Homo sapiens: one gene and its partners. The protein of the gene in region 3 purifies or fractionates together with the protein of the main gene of each other region. This does not show direct contact. Each region holds a gene or a part of one and is shown on either strand. Other genes may lie near its edges. The genes, in order: ITPRID2, ITPR1, BBOX1 and EVPL.

Evidence for each region.
Region 1: the proteins of BBOX1 (region 3) and ITPRID2 purify together in Homo sapiens (affinity purification with mass spectrometry; 3 studies listed by BioGRID and IntAct, with this or other methods). This does not show direct contact.
Region 2: the proteins of BBOX1 (region 3) and ITPR1 purify together in Homo sapiens (affinity purification with mass spectrometry; one large-scale study listed by BioGRID and IntAct). This does not show direct contact.
Region 4: the proteins of BBOX1 (region 3) and EVPL purify together in Homo sapiens (affinity purification with mass spectrometry; one large-scale study listed by BioGRID and IntAct). This does not show direct contact.

What each region holds. Positions count from the first base shown.
Region 1 is NC_000002.12:181,905,221-181,909,031, forward strand, and holds part of ITPRID2 (protein ITPRID2), read left to right. Parts: intron 1-3,811.
Region 2 is NC_000003.12:4,496,070-4,499,880, forward strand, and holds part of ITPR1 (inositol 1,4,5-trisphosphate-gated calcium channel ITPR1), read left to right. Parts: intron 1-3,811. UniProt on the Homo sapiens protein: Inositol 1,4,5-trisphosphate-gated calcium channel that, upon inositol 1,4,5-trisphosphate binding, mediates calcium release from the endoplasmic reticulum (ER).
Region 3 is NC_000011.10:27,043,710-27,047,520, forward strand, and holds part of BBOX1 (gamma-butyrobetaine dioxygenase), read left to right. Parts: intron 1-2,532; exon of another isoform or gene 2,533-2,695; intron 2,696-3,476; exon of another isoform or gene 3,477-3,603; intron 3,604-3,811. UniProt on the Homo sapiens protein: Catalyzes the formation of L-carnitine from gamma-butyrobetaine.
Region 4 is NC_000017.11:76,006,089-76,010,361, forward strand, and holds the end of EVPL (envoplakin), read right to left. Parts: coding exon 1,015-4,273; 3' UTR 757-1,014; downstream 1-756. UniProt on the Homo sapiens protein: Component of the cornified envelope of keratinocytes. May link the cornified envelope to desmosomes and intermediate filaments.

The DNA of each region.
Region 1 (3,811 bases), on a different chromosome or scaffold from region 3:
TTGTATTTTTAGTAGAGATGGGGTTTCACTACGTTGGCCAGGCTGGTCTCAAACTCCTGACCTCGTGATCTGACCACCTCGGCCTCCCAAAATGCTGGGATTACAGGTGTGAGCCACCACACCCAGCCTATAACTATTTATAAAAAGTTATTAAATCCTGTTCTTGAATTTCTAATTATTCCAAATGACTTGCTTCATTAATTCTTGTGTTCTTCTTGAATGGCTTATTTTGAATACGTCATGGTAACTCTCTGAAGCCATAGATTAGTAGTGTGAATGATTCACAAGTTAAACCAAAATGATCCTTCTCAAGCAGATGTTCATCTTTTAGATGTAAAGGAAAAACTTAAGAAGGAGAACTTTTATCTCAGCATTTCTGTAAGAAGTTGACTGTGTGGTCTTCTTGACCTTTAAATGAATTTTTATTTAAATATAACCATTATTGGATATACACATAATCTTTTTTAAGCTACTGATGTGTTAGTAACTGTTTCTAATCCTGTCTTCATACTAATTATTGATTTAACTAATGTACTTGACTTCTCATTTTTAGCTGTTAAGTTTTAGGATTTTTCTATGTTTATTGGTCTGAGTTAAAATAATCCCACATCAGTCAGATATTTGACAGATAATTAAGTTGTTCCTTTGGCCTTTTAAATGTAACTGTGTATGTTTTGAAGATAAGCCTGCCCTGGAATATGAACTCTAACATATGACATGCACAGATATCTGCTACTCTAAAGCCCAATTAACCACTGTTTTGTTATTTGATATTTACCTAAAAGACCTTAGTCAATTTTTATTGAAAATTTACCTGACAGTAAAAATAAATGATATTTTTGTGTGTATGTGTAAAACTCGATAGTATTTGTTTAAGATAAACATTTGCAAGTAATTTATAGAATCATAAACTAGTACGGAAAGAGATACTTTATTCATTTTCTAGTTTCTTCCCTTTACAAATGAGGAAGCATCCCCTCCCTCATTTGATATTGTTTTATAGCAGTGGTTCTTCACCATCTTTCTGAGGGCTATAATATTCCTTTTGATATCAGTGCTTCACAGGGGGAAGGAGCACAGCGGGTGTCAGTGGAGGATGGCAGAGGAGGATCTCCTGTTGTACATTCTTACTACTTTACTGTTTGAAAGTACTTTGACTTACAGTTACATTTGATCACCCCAAGGACCTATGAGGTAGAAATTTTAATTTTAATTTTGCTGTTAATTTTAATTTTGAGGCTGAGCATGGTGATTCACACCTGTAATCCCAGCACTGTGTGGAGGCTGAGGCAGGAGGATCACTTGAGCCCAGAAGTTAGAGACCAGCCTGGACAACATAGCATGACTTGTCTCTACAAATAGTTTTAAAATTAGCCGTGCATGGTGGTGCATGTCTGTAGTCCCACTTCTCCAAAGGCTGAGGTGGGAGAATCACTTGAGCCCAGGCAGTTGAGGCTGCAGTGAGCCATGATTCCACCACTGCACTCCAGCCTGGGCAACAGAACGAGACCTTGTTTCAAAAAAATGAAATAAAAAAAAAAAATACGGATATTTATCGCAGATAATTGTCAGAGGCCGTTAGCCAGTAAGTGGCATGAATAAGACTTGAATTCACGTTACTTGTGACTATACTATACAACTTGGTGAAGGTCAGATATGTTGGTATGGTCAGGCATTGTACAAGAACTAATCATCTGATGCACAGCACCATGCTACTACTTTGGAAAAAGAATGATTTCCTCTGACATTTTTTTGAGCTGTCATTAAAAATTAGACAGAATTGTAATTTCTAAAGCTCTAGTTTTGATTTTCTTTGAAAACCATTTTGATATACAATGTTTATTCAATGATGACAGCTATACAGTCTCTTTTTAAACTTTAGAGGAAGGGTTATTTGAGTTAGAACATCCATGTATTGCTGTCCTGTGCAATACAATACAGTAGTATTGTGCCTAGAAGATCCCTCTTAGTCAAGGTAAACATGACAGCTGTTAAGAAACCAAAGTGGTTCACTGAAACAAAAAGTACATTTTTTAAACAAGAGAAAGAAACCAAAGTGAGTGCCTGTCATTTTAGCAGAACATTGATTTAGAAAGATACAGTCATTGTTTCATGAAAACTTTTTTAAATGAAGTAACCCAAATGTGTGGGTTATTCTAAAGCTGTTTTTCATCTTTGAATCCCAAAACATTGAGACCATGCAATTTTATCACTTTGGTTTAGTGGTTTTTTTTTTTTTTTATATTATGAAACAGTTTTGTTATGAAAAGTTTCAAACTTACTTGAAGATTAGAGAAAATAATATCATGAACACCCATTACTCATCATTCTAATTCAGTTTTATTTGGCTATTCTTGTTAATTATGAAAGGCTGCTTATAGCAAATGACCAGAATTCTACGGAGCATTTGAAACCACTGAATAGGGAAAATCTTGTCACATAAATCTAAATTCTGTGTTCTATATTTGCTTCATAATTCTCTGTGGTGTACCCCATCTCAAATTTGACTGCCGCCTTTTGCACAATTGTGACCAATAATAAAATAAGAAATTCACCCATTATCACTAGCATGTATGTTTCTCTCTTCAGCAAGTGGGTACTCTGATTTTGCTGAGTAAACAAGAAGAATCCCAACTTTAGTTTTATTAGTAAAATGTGACTGTCTCAGCTTTTTGAAGTGCTCCTTTCTTGCACTTAATTATGGAGTTTGTAGTAAAAGGAGAGAGTAGATTTGTTTTTGCCATTGAGTAGCATCTTGAAGAATAGAATGCTGATGATATGTGTTTATTAAAGTCATGTTATTTTGTGATTAATTTCATAAGTCTAAGGAAATAGAATATGTGATAATTCTGTGTTTAAAGGTGAGCAGCCGGGTGCGGCGGCTCACACCTTTAATCCCAGCACTTGGAAGGCTGTGGCAGGTGGATCGCTTGAGCCCAGGAGTTTGAGACCCCAGCCTGGGCAACATGGTGAAACCCCATCTCTACCAAAAATACAAAAATTACCCAGTCTCATAACCCAGTCTCAAAATAAATAAATAGATTAAATTTAAAAAAAACATGACAGTGAGAGATTTGGTATATTAATGCTGTGCCTGAGCCAGTATTCCTAGAACATAAATGCAGAGGCATTGGAATTCTGCTATAATTTTTTGATCTGGTTGATATTTACTTTACAGAAAGATACTTGAAGTAGACCGAGCCTGAATAGAAGCTAATAATAGACATTTTATTGAATATAAAAAGAAAACGCACATTGTTCCCTTGCATACAAGACAATGGTTTTCCTGTTGAACATGTATCTGCTGCTTTGAAGAATTATTCTAATTTTAACAAGATAACAAAGAATAGTAGAATCTATTTTTATATATCTGATCTACAGGTGATGGTTTTGCATGAGTAGTGTGCTTTCAGTTTTCAAAAGATTCATAAACTTCGGTTCCTGGAGCTATGTAGAGCAAAGAAATCACAAATTAGAGCAAATTTTAAATTGGGTAATACTATCTTTAACCTTTGGGCTTTTAAAAATGTTGGTTATTTCACTCTTATTCCTTTGGAATATTTCTTATTCTTGAATAGCTTCATAACTAAAAACTACCAGAGTTTTCCCTAAAATGTGTTAACTATTAGCGCTTTGATTTTTTTTTTCAAGGTTGAAAACCCATATGTTCAGCTAGGTACCACACTTTACTAGGATGTTCTTTATGATTTAAGAACCAATCATTACAGAGTAAAGTGACAGAAATTACCGTGCATCTTGCCCATTCCCTATGTATTTAATGTTGACATAGAGTTAATTATGTTAGAATAGA
Region 2 (3,811 bases), on a different chromosome or scaffold from region 3:
ACCACAAGGAACATTATGTAAGTTAAGCATTAGGCTCACCTCCTAGCTGAAATACATCTTGATTGTTTACATCAAAGAATCTGAGTAGGTTAAAAGGATCAGGCGTTTCCCCATCTGAATAATTCGAAAGTTTAAACTGCAGTTAGACTGCAATGTGAAATGTTGATACCTTTTCATATACCTTCCAGTTTGCTTTGCAGCCAGTTGTGCAGACGTTTTTGTTCTCCATTTTTTCTTTCAAGTTCATGTGTGTGTGTGTGTGTGTGTATGCATATGTACACTGAAAGTACAATCTGCTCTTTGAATAATTCAAATCAGAACAGAAAATCCTTTCAAGATATCATTCTTATCAGGCAGGGAAAGTTCTTCATGTTCTAAGTGAATTACTCTGGCTCTTGCCTTGAGACCCATGAAAGTCATTTGGGGTTGACAATGGTATCTATTTAAACCAAGTGATTGTCTTTTGGAGGGAATTGGCATCTTTTCTTTAGGAATGAGAAGTGGAATGGTTGCTTAGAAAAAAAGAGATAGATGAACTCCACAGAAAGATCAAGAGTCTTTTCTTCAAAATATTTTTAAGTGAGGAAGATCAGGGTGTTGGTATTGCGGGGAGGGAGGAGAGTGGGCAGAGAGAAAGATAAAAAAGAAACCTTTAATCCAATGGTGTGCAACCAACTGACTTCCAGAGGGGGGAATATCACATGGCTTTTCAACTCATTTATAAAGATATCATGGAAACTGTCTGATTTCTTCATGAGCAGCTCTTAGAAAACAAACAAAAATAAAACAAACACCAAATATGAACAACAGAAAAAAACAGCCAAAATAAAAGTAGGCCTGGAGTTAGGTTTCTAGGTCAAGCTGTCTTTGGCTACATCTAATTAAGGAGTCTCCACAGGGCCAGTGTCTATCTTGTTTACTATTGGTTTGATTTTTAAAAATAAAACACATTGCATTTGCAGGCTGTCTGTTAACCAGAAGTCCATGCAGTTTTTTTTTTTTCCATTTTTGCTGTTTTAAGTTTGTGCATAGCTCAATTGATGAATGCAATTAAGGCTTGAAGTCGGTGATGTGAATGACATAACTTCTATGATTCCTTACAATTCTCTTGGTTTCTGTGGTTCTGAGATGATTGCTAATGAGAATAAGCCAGATACACCACTGAAACCGTCACCCATTCAACTTTGAGATTTCTAAATTGGATGTAGTTTAAGGCACATGGTGTGGTAAATCTATTTAACAGACTCTAAGACCTGTTCAAGTTGTGTGCGATTCAAATGTTTTATTCTTTATTCAACAAATTTCTTGAGCACCTGCTATGTACTAAGATGTATTCCAGGTGCTCAGGATATAGCAATGAACAAACCATCCCGTTCCCAAGAGGCTTACATCTCAGTTGGTGGGAGGCAGCCAATATAAATAAACAAGTAAGTATTATAGTATTAGAGGTAGTAAAAGCTATGGAGAAAAAGAAAACTGGTTAAAGGGGGAACAGAAAATAACAAGTGGAGAAATTAGATCCCTTGTGCATTGCCGGTGGGAATGTAAAATGGTGAAGCTGCTGTGGAAAACAGCATGGCAGTTACTAAAAAAAATTAAACATAAAATTACTATATGTCCCAGCAATTCCACTTCAAGGTATATACTTTAAAAAATTGAAAGTAGGGACGTGAGCAGATATTTGTACACCTGTGTCAGTAGAAGCATTATCACAGTAGCCAAAAGGTAGAAACAACACAAGTCTACTGATGAATGAACAGATAAAATGTGAAATATACATACAATGGAATATTATTCAGCCTTAAAAAGGGAATTCTGACACATGCTACAATGTGGATGAACCTTGAAAACATGCTAAGTGAAACAAGCCAGAAATAAAAGGACACATATTTTATGATTTTTCTTATAGAGGCATCTAGAGTAGTCAGATCCCTGCAGACAGAAAGTAGAATGGGGATTGCTGGGGGAGATAGAAGACAGGAAGGGGGAGTTAGTGTTTATTGAGGATAGAGTTTCAGTTTGGAAAGATGAAAAAGTTCTGGAAATGGATGGTGGTGATGTCACACAACAGTGTGAATGTACTTAGTGCCACTGAGTTATAACATTTCAAAGTGGTATATTTTATGTTATGTATATTTTACAGTAATTTTAAAAAGCAACAAAACATGATGAGGGGTATTAAGGGAGTACTCAGGTGGGGATTAGATCTTTACTACATGACATCTCAGCACAGATCTGAAGGAGGCAAACGAGTTGACCCTGTAGCTGTCAGGGAAAAAGTGTGTTCCAAATGTCAGAGCAGCAAGTACAGAGGCCCTGAGATAGGAGTGTTTGTGACATGTTGGAGGAAGGAGAAGAAGGCCAGGGGAGAGTGCTAGGAGTTCAGGAGGGAGAGGGAGTCAAGGTCCAGACCTGTAGGGACCAGATTTTGCAGGTCAACAGTGGTTTATCTGAGGACTTGTAAACTCTCACGGAATTCTCAGTGTGGTTTTCAACATCACAAAACTACATTGTCCTTTCTGAAGAGACTCTGGTAAGGTTGGCAGGATCACATACCAGATGGGAACTCGATAGGGGGTAAAACCCAGATTTCTGGACTGTCTGGTTAATGACAGGACTTACCTGGAGTTGTAATTCACTTCAGTAGAAAAGGAAAGTTTGACAAATAGGTGAACGTACAGTTGACTTGGAGAGCAAATTGTAAGAACATAATGATAATCCTGGAGTTTCAACACAAACCTATGTCTTACCGCCACCCTGCGTTGTATCCAGTGTCGTTTTAAGAGATATTTACAAGGAGGACTAATATTCTGCTCTCCAGCATCCTTGAGGAATTAGAAGCTTCACATCAGTGATTCTCCTTAATAAGTGAAGTGGACCCCTGCACATGTGCAAACTTAAAGCAAACCTCAAATTTTGTTACTTATTACATAAGATATACATATTCATGTAGCACACACCTTGGACTCGGCTACTCAGGGGACGGAGGCAGGAGAATTACTTGAGCCCGGGGGTTTGAGGCTGTAATATACTATGATTGCATCTGTGATAGCTACTGTACTCCAGCAAGACCCCATCTCTGTTAAAAAAATTTTTTTAAGGAGAAAAAGATAGCATATTCATTGTAGTGCAACATTAGGAAATAAAGAGGAGCAATGAAACAAAACAAAACAATTCAACTATTAGAGATTAGGGTTTCAGGCTTTTCCTCTAAGTATGCATATGTAAAATTTACGTATATATTTAAATTTCATAAAAAGGGACTAACACAGTATCTCTCATTTGGTAAATTACCTTTTGTACATCTTGAACATCTTTTTAATAAACAGACATCTGTGTCTCATTTTTCTAAATGTGCCTACCCCTTTGATGGCCTTTCATTTTTATTGAGTCTAGGTTTATACTTCCCTGATATATATACATATATAAATAGATATTTGTAAAAAATACATAATATAATAATTTTACACATACACGTATTTAACAGTTTGAATTAGGATCCAAATAAGGTAAATACATTACAAATGGTTGATGTTCACTAATCTCTGTATTTCCTCTACAGATCTTTTTTCCATGCATTTTTTTTGTTGTTATCGAAGAAACTGGGTGATACACGTCTCCACAGTTTAGACTTTGCTGACTGCATCAGTGCAATGTGGTTTAACATGTTTCTGTATCCCCTTGGGGTACCATAATTTGGTAGTTAGATGTAGAGGCTTCATCAAAGTTAGGTTCTTTTCTTTTTTAAATTGAGAAGGGGTCTCACTATGTTGCCTCGGCTGGCCTTGGACTCCTGGTCTCAAGCAGTCTT
Region 3 (3,811 bases):
TGTGATAGTTTGCTGAGAATGATGGCTTCCAGCTTCCTCCATGTCCCTGCGGAGGACATGAACTCATCCTTTTTTATGGCTGCATAGTATTCCATGGTGTATATATGCCACATTTTCTTTATCCAGTCTATCATTGATGAGCATTTGAGTTGGTTCCAAGTCTTTGCCATTGTGAACAGTGCTGTAATAAACATACATGTGCACGTGTCTTTATAGTAGAATGATTTATAATCCTTTGGGTGTATACGCAGTAATGGGATTGCTGGGTCAAATGGTATTCCTGGTTCTAGATCCTTGAGGAATTGCCACACTGTCTTCCACAATGTTTGAACTACTTTATATTCCCACCAACAGTGTAAAAGTGTTCCTATTTCTCCACATCCTCTCTAGCATCTGTTGTTTCCTGACTTTTTAATGATCACCATTCTAACTGACATGAGATGGTATCTCATTGTGGTTTTGATTTGCATTTGTCTAATGACTAGTGACGATGAGCTTTTCTTCATATGTTTGTTGGCTGCATAAATGTCTTCTTTTGAGAAGTGTCTGTTCATATCTTTTGCCCATTTTTGATGGGTTTTTTTTTCTTGTAAATTTGTTGAAGTTCTTTGTAGATTCTGGATATTAGACCTTTGTCAGATGGATAGATTGCAAAAATTTTCTCCCATTCGGTAGGTTGTCTATTCACTCTGATGATAGTTCTGCTGTGCAGAAGCTCTTTAGTTTAATTAGATCCAGTTTGTCAATTTGGGCTTTTGTTGCCCTTGCTTTTGGTGTTTTAGTCATGAAGTCTTTGCCCATGCTTATGTCCTGAATGATATTGCCTAGGTTTTCTTCTAGGGTTTTTATGGTTTTAGGTCTTGCGTTTAAGTCTTTAATCCATCTTTAGTTAATTTTTGGATAAGGTGTAAGGAATGGATCCAGTTTCAGCTTTCTACATATGGCTAGCCAGTTTTCCCAACACCATTTATTAAATAGGAAATCCTTTCCCCATTGCTTGTTTTTGTCAGGTTTGTCAAAGATCAGATGGTTATAGATGTATGGCATTATTTCTGAGGCCTCTGTTTTGTTCCATTGGTCTATCTGTTTTTGCACCAGTACCATGCTGTTTTGGTTACTGTGGCCTTGTAGTATAGTCTGAAGTCAGGTAGCATGATGCCTCCAGCTTTGTCTTTTTGCTTAGGATTGTCTTGGCTATGTGGGCTCTTTTTTGGTTCCACATGAACTTTAAAGTAGTTTTTTCCAATTCTGTGAAGAAAGTCAATTATAGCTTGATGGGGATAGCATTGAATCTATAAATTACCTTGGGCAGTATGGCCATTTTCACGATATTGATTCTTCCTATCTATAAGCATGGAATGTTTTTCCATTGTTTGTGTCCTCTCTTATTTCCTTGAGCAATGGTTTGTAGTTCTCCTTGAAAAGGTCCTTCACATCCCTTCTAACTTGGATTCCTAGATATTTTATTCTCTTTGAAGCAATTGTGAATGGGAGTTCACTCATGATTTGGCTCTCTGTTTGTCTGTTATTGGTGTATAGGAATGCTTGTGATTTTTGCACATTGATTTTGTATCCCGAGACTTTGCTGAAGTTGCTTATCAGCTTAAGGAGATTTTGGGCTGAGAAGATGGGGTTTTCTAAATGTACAATTCATGTCATCTGCAAACAAAGACAATTTGACTTCTTCTTTTCCTAATTGAATACGCTTTATTTCTTTCTCTTGACTGATCACCCTGGCCAGAACTTCCAATACTATGTTGAATAGTAGTTGTGTCAGAGGGCATCCTTGTCTTGTGCCAGTTTTCAAAGAGAATGTTTCCAGTTTTTGCCCATTCAGTATGATATTGGCTGTGGGTTTGTCATAAGTAACTCTTATTATTTTGATATATATTCCTTCAATACCTAGTTTATTGAGAGTTTTTAGCATGAAGGGCTGTTGAATTTTATCGAAGCATCATACTTCTCCTGAGAAAGAGATGAAAATTAACAGATACTGACGTTTGCTAACATAGGTCTATGCTGGTCTTGTTTTCCATTTACTAAAAACACTCAAGAAATAACAGCCTTTTATTCTGAGGGATAAGTAATTTAGTAGATAAATCAGCCTTCTCAGGTACATATTAATCTACTACAATTTTAATTTTATGTATAATAACTATAAAGTTTCTGCATCTGCTTCCTGTGAATTCCCTCCAAAGCCTATGATTGAAATTAGTTGTAAGTAATGTTTGAAGAACTTTTGCAATTTCTTTTATGAGAACTTGAAGAGTATCACTTAATACATATAAACTTAGCTGGCAAATCCAGGTTTGGGGCAACCTTTCTCACTAATGAGCAGTGTGAGCCTGGACAAATCACACCCAACATTTCTGAGCTTCCATTTTCCCTGCATGTCTGATGAGGGCCCTGTGACCCAACAATAGCACAGGCTGTTTCTTTCTGGCTCTAAAAGCTCTAGCTCTAAGTTACTTTTATTTCCAAGATCAATGCATAAAATAAATTTCAGAGCTACTTTCTTGATTTTCCAAACAGTGCTGAAGAATCAGGAGACAAACTTGAATTTGTAATATTAAGAAAAAGAAAAAAAAGGAGAAAACCCACACCCATCACTGAAGTAATTTCAAAAACAAGCAATTTACTTGTGCCCAACAGAAGTCCCAGACAAACTTCTATTACTCTGAAGAGAAAAAATATGGTAGGTGAATAAATTAGGAGGGAAACACACCACAGACACACACACACACACACACACTACACACATGTATTAATATGAAGTAAAAGAAACCTATCCCATCAGATAAGAATATGCCAAAAATCCAAAGGCTGTTTTTCAGAACAGGTGAAACTACTGTTTCCCACCAAAACCAATCTGATATTTCATAAACTAAATTACAATTGTAAGAAGAAAAATAAGTGTAAAATAAGAATTTTTGTTTTATAGGTGTTCTTTAATTTGTCAAAGACATCCCACTGATAAAAATTCATCCTATATAGCTAGGAGCTATATATAGGAGCTATATCTAAATTTTTCTTTTCTTCAGAGAAACAGAGTAGCTTATCATCTAACTAAATTGCTATGGTGCTTCAACTGAGCTCAATTCTAACAAGTCAAGTTGGTTAAATTACAAAAACAGATTTCAACAAATCATGTTAACATACAAGCTATAATTTTCAGAAAGCATTTGCTTTTAAACACTGATGATCTGCAATTTTTTTTTTAATTTTCATCACATTTGCCCCAGTAGACCTTTAAATAATCCAGAAAAAGTTAAAGTGGGAACTTATTTTCCCATTTTGCCCTGCTTTTGTTTTGATTACCTTTCACGTTTATCATAAATTTAAGAAAGGGATTGTGAAGAGAAGGAATGACCCACTAAGTTTCTACAGAGATACCTAAGTAATTTAACATCAGCAACACCCAAGTCTTTCCAGTTCTTCCACATTCTCCCATGTGCCTTGGGCACCCTCCAATCAGACACTATCCTGACATCGCCTCTCTTGGAACACCTTCCTCAGGACATCCATTTGGCAAAATGGGTTGGAAAGAATGGTCTCAGGTTCCCCCAGTGATTGGAAATGTGCTTCTGCCTCTCTCATTCAAACCTAGGTAGAAGAAGAAAAAGAAAAAAACAGATAGAAAGCTCAAAACAGCAGTCTGAAATGTAATTAATGTTTCTTGGCACAGATGTCTATAGGAGTGATCACTTCAATAGTTGGTGTGACATGGGCACACCACCATCTTTAAGCAGAGGAACCATGTTCCTCATGGTAGAAAATGCACCCCTGGACTGGGTATTCATTAAGTATTAGT
Region 4 (4,273 bases), on a different chromosome or scaffold from region 3:
GAGACAGTGGGGAAATGGGCAAGGAGTAGGTGGGGAGACAGGGGCTAGTCCATGATTTTTTTTTTTTTTTTTTTTTTTTTTTGAGACAGAGTCTCACTCTGTCACCCAGGCTAGAGTGCAGTGACATAATCTCAGCTCACTGCAACCTCTGCCTCATGGGTTCAAGCAGTTCTCCTGCCTCAGTCTCCCGAGTAGCTGGGATTACAGGCATATGCCACCAAGCCCCCATTTTTTTTTTTTTTTTTGAGATGGAGTCTCGCTGTCTCAGGTCTACCCTGTTGCCCAGGGTAGAGTGCAGTGGCATGATCTCTGCTCACTGGAACGTCCGCCTCCCAGGTTCAAGTGATTCTCCTGCCTCAGCCTCCTGAGTAGCGGGAATTTTAGGTGTGCACCACCACACCCAGCTAATTTTTGTATTTTTAGTAGAGTCGGGGTTTCACCGTGTTCGTCAGGCTGGTCTCGAACTCCTGACCTCGGATCCACCCGCCTTGGCCCCCCTAAATGCTGGTATTACAGGTGTGAGCCACTGTGCCCGGCCTCCTTTAGTGATTTTAAACCATAATCTCTTTCCATGACCTGCCACTGCATCCCTGCCCCGCACTCAAGGAGGCACAGCCCTCCGAGGATGCCTGTTTCCCAGGCAGGCAAATTGAGCACGTCCGCCCAGGCAAGGACTTGAGCAACGCTGTCCTTGCACTCATCCCCCAGACACATGGGTCCTGCACTCTCAAATGTGAATGAATGGGACACCACATGGCACGGGGAGACAGAATTCGTTTATTGGGATCACTGGGTGGAGGTGGAGGAAGAACTGAGTGGCTGCTGTCCTGGTCTGGGGATGGATCAGGCACCAAGGTTAGGGGAGGGAGCCCATCACCATGTTAGTAAAATAATAAAACAGTGGTTGGACAGAGGGAAGACCCACTGCCTGGGATGAGGCTGCTCTGAGGCAAGAGGTGTACGTATCCTACCTGGCCCAACACACGCACTTCCCCACTGGCTCCTTGGCCCGTGTCAGCGAAGGGAGCGCGGGACGGTGGGGGAGGCGGAGCGGTAGCAGCGGTACCCCTCCAGTGCCGCTGGCAGGAGCAGCAGGCCGCTCAGGGGGTCTTTGCGGCAGCGGCCCATGGCCTCCTTGTAGCTCAGCCGTTCCTTGGAGATGGGGTCTGTCAAATCCTTCTCGTAGCTGGACTCGTCCTGCAGGAGCTGGGCCAGCTCTTCACTGATCATCCCGGAGAGGAGGGCCTGCTGGATGGGGATGCGGCCTGTCCTCTTGGGGTCGATGAGCCCCCCGGTCAGGTGCTGCACCTGCAGGTGTGGGAGCACGCTCTCCCGGGGCATCCAGCCCTTCTGGACGGCCTCGCCCACCGAGAGCCTCTTCTTGGTGACGGGGTCCTCGATGCCGGTGAAGGCCTTCTGGGCGTTAAGCAGCCTCTGTGTGGAGGTGTTCTCGATCAGGCCCCTCTCCATCGCCTTGTGCACAGAGTAGCGCTCACGGCTGAGCAGGTCCACGATGCCCCCTGTGGCCGCCTGGGCCTCCAGTAGCTTCTGCCCAGTGATGGGGTCCAGCATGTTCTTGGCCACGGCCGTCTTGATGCTGCACTTGTTGTCTGTGGTTGTGTCATAGATCCCGGCGATAGGGAAGCTGTCATCACCGAGCCCGAGAGAGAAGCTGGGAGAGAAGAAACTGGTGCTCTGGGGGGCCGGGGAGGCGAGCGGGGACTTGGAGATGATAGAGCCGATGGAGAGTGAGGAGCTTGGCTTGGTCTCCCCAGCTACAAGCAGCGCAAACTCGGAGATGGGCAGGTGGCCGTCCTTGTACAGATGGTACTCCTCCTTAGAGATGCGCCGGCAGCGGAGGGCGGCCTCGATGGAGTACTGCTTCCCGCTCTTGCGGTCCAGGAGCACAGACTCCTCCCCACAGGGCCCCGAGGTGGTGACCTCCTCCCAGTCACACTCGAGCTCCTGCAGCTGCAAGTACTGGCCCCTGTCGATGATGCCCCTCTTGTAGGCCTCGTATGGGGACATGTCCTTCCCCGTCTCGGGTTCCAGGATGGAGATCTTGGTGGAAAGGTTGGTCTCTCGCGTCTGGGTCTCCTGGCTGAGCTCCTCCCGGCTCACCTTGGCGTGGAGGTCCCGGAGCGTCCGCTCCTTCTCGTAGATCTGGTCCTTCTCGCGGAGGATGGCCGCCTCCAGCCGCGAGAGCTCCTGGCCCCGCTGGGCCGCCTTCTGTCGCTCGCTCTCCGTCTTCTGGCTGAGCAGCTTCGACTCCTCCTGCAGCTGCAGTGTCTGCTGCTGCTTCTGCCTCTCCAGAGCCCGCAGCTCCTGCTGCAGCCGCCCACACTCCTGGTCGGCCTGGTCCCGGGCCCTCTGCAGCTCGGACTCCTCCCGGGACCAGGTTCTCCCCAGCGTCTCGGCCCGGTCAATGCGCTCCCGCAGGCGCCGTGCCTCCTCCTCCCGGGCCTGCCGGGCCGTGCGCTCCCTGTTGAGCATCTCCCACACGCGGGCCCGCTCATCTTCCAGGACGCGGTCCTTCTGCACCCGGATCACTTCCTTGTAGATGGTCTTCTCCTGCGATTTGGCTTTCTGGAGGACGTCAATCTGGACCTGCAGGTTCTTGCACTCCCGATTCAGCTCGGTTACCTGGGTCTTCTCCTGGTCCAGGTCCCACCGCAGGGCTTCCGTGGACTTCTCCAGGTCCGGGTCCTTCTCCAGCTTGACCACTTCCTCCATGATGATCTTCTCCTGCACCGTGGGAGGCCGCTTCTCGAGCTCCTGGATCCTCAAGGTCAGCTGCCGCAGCTCCCTCTCCACGGCCAGCTTCTTGCTGCGGTCCTCCTGGAAGCTGAGCAGGCCCTCCTGCTCCTCCACGCCGGCCCGCAGCTGCTGCACCTCAAGCTCTAGCTGGCGCCGCCGGCCCACCTCCTCATCCAGGCTCCCGCTCAGCCGGCTGTGCTCCTCGCGCAGCTTCGGGTCCTTCTGGGTGACCACCACCTCCTGCACCACCACCTTCTCCTCGGGCTTCCTCCTCTCCAGCAGCAGGCGCTTGCTCTGCAGCTCGTACACCGCGTCCTCCGCGGCCCGCCTCTTCTGGGCCGCCTCCCGCACCTCCTGGCGGAGCCGCTCTGCTTCTTTCTCCAGCACCGGGTCCTTCTCGTGGCGCACCACCTCCTTGCTCACCGTCTTGGTCTCCACCTTGGCCCGCTCGCGCCTCCACTCGTCGCGCTCACCCTGCAGGCGGATGAGCTGCTCCTGGGAGCGCCCGTGGCTGTTGACGAGCTCGTTGAGCTGAGCCTTCAGGCGGTCGATCTCACGCAGCACCTCGGGGCTCCTCTCATGCCTCACCACCTCCTGGGTCACCTCCTTGTACTCCACCGTGGGCTTCTGGGCCCGCAGGACCTCCAGGTCGGGCAGCAGCTTCTCCACCTCCTTCTCCACACCGCTCCTCTTGCCCGCCATCTCCTGCAGCTTGGCCTTGAGCCGAGTGATCTCCTGCTCTGTCTCCGGATCCACCTGGAAGATCTCGTGGACGCGCTCCTGGAGCTGCACTTTGGGCCTCTGCTTCTCCACCACGCTGTACTTGCTGTGCAGGTCGCTCAGCTCCCTGGCCAGCGTCGCGTTCTTGGTCCTCTCCTCCTCGAGGAGGCTCCTCAGCCTGGAGGACTCCTGGAGGAGCCCTGGGTCCTGCTCCACCTTCTTCACCTCCTTCACGATGACCTTGGGCTCCACCGAGCTGATAGCCCGCTCCAGGTCTTCGATGCGAGCCTGTAGCTTGGCCACAGCCTCCTCCGCCTGCTTCCTCCGCGCAGCATCCTCCTCCATCTGCAGCCTCAGAGCCTGGGCTGCCTTGACCATTTCCAGATTCTTCTCCACCTTGACTACCTCTTTCACCACGACCTTCTCCTTCACGTCCACCTCCCTCTTCTCAAGGGCCAGTAGCTCCTTCTTCAGCCCTTCCAGCCGGGCCGAGATGACGGCATCCTCCCCGCGGAGCTGCTGGATCTGGATCCTGAGCTGGGCCGCCTGGCTGTCCAGGCCGGGGTCCCTCTCCACCTGGGTGACCTCCTTGGTCAGCAGATGAGGCTGCATGGTCTTCCTCTTGCTTTCCAGCTGCACGACCTTCTGGGCTGCCACTTCCAGGTCTGCCTGCAGGCCAGCCCGCCGCTTGCCCTCCTCCTCCACCTGGGCCTTCACCCTGGACAGGCTGCCCTCCAGCTGGGGGTCCCGGTAGAACTCTACCACTTCCTTCTCCTCCAGCCTCTCCAAGGGCCGC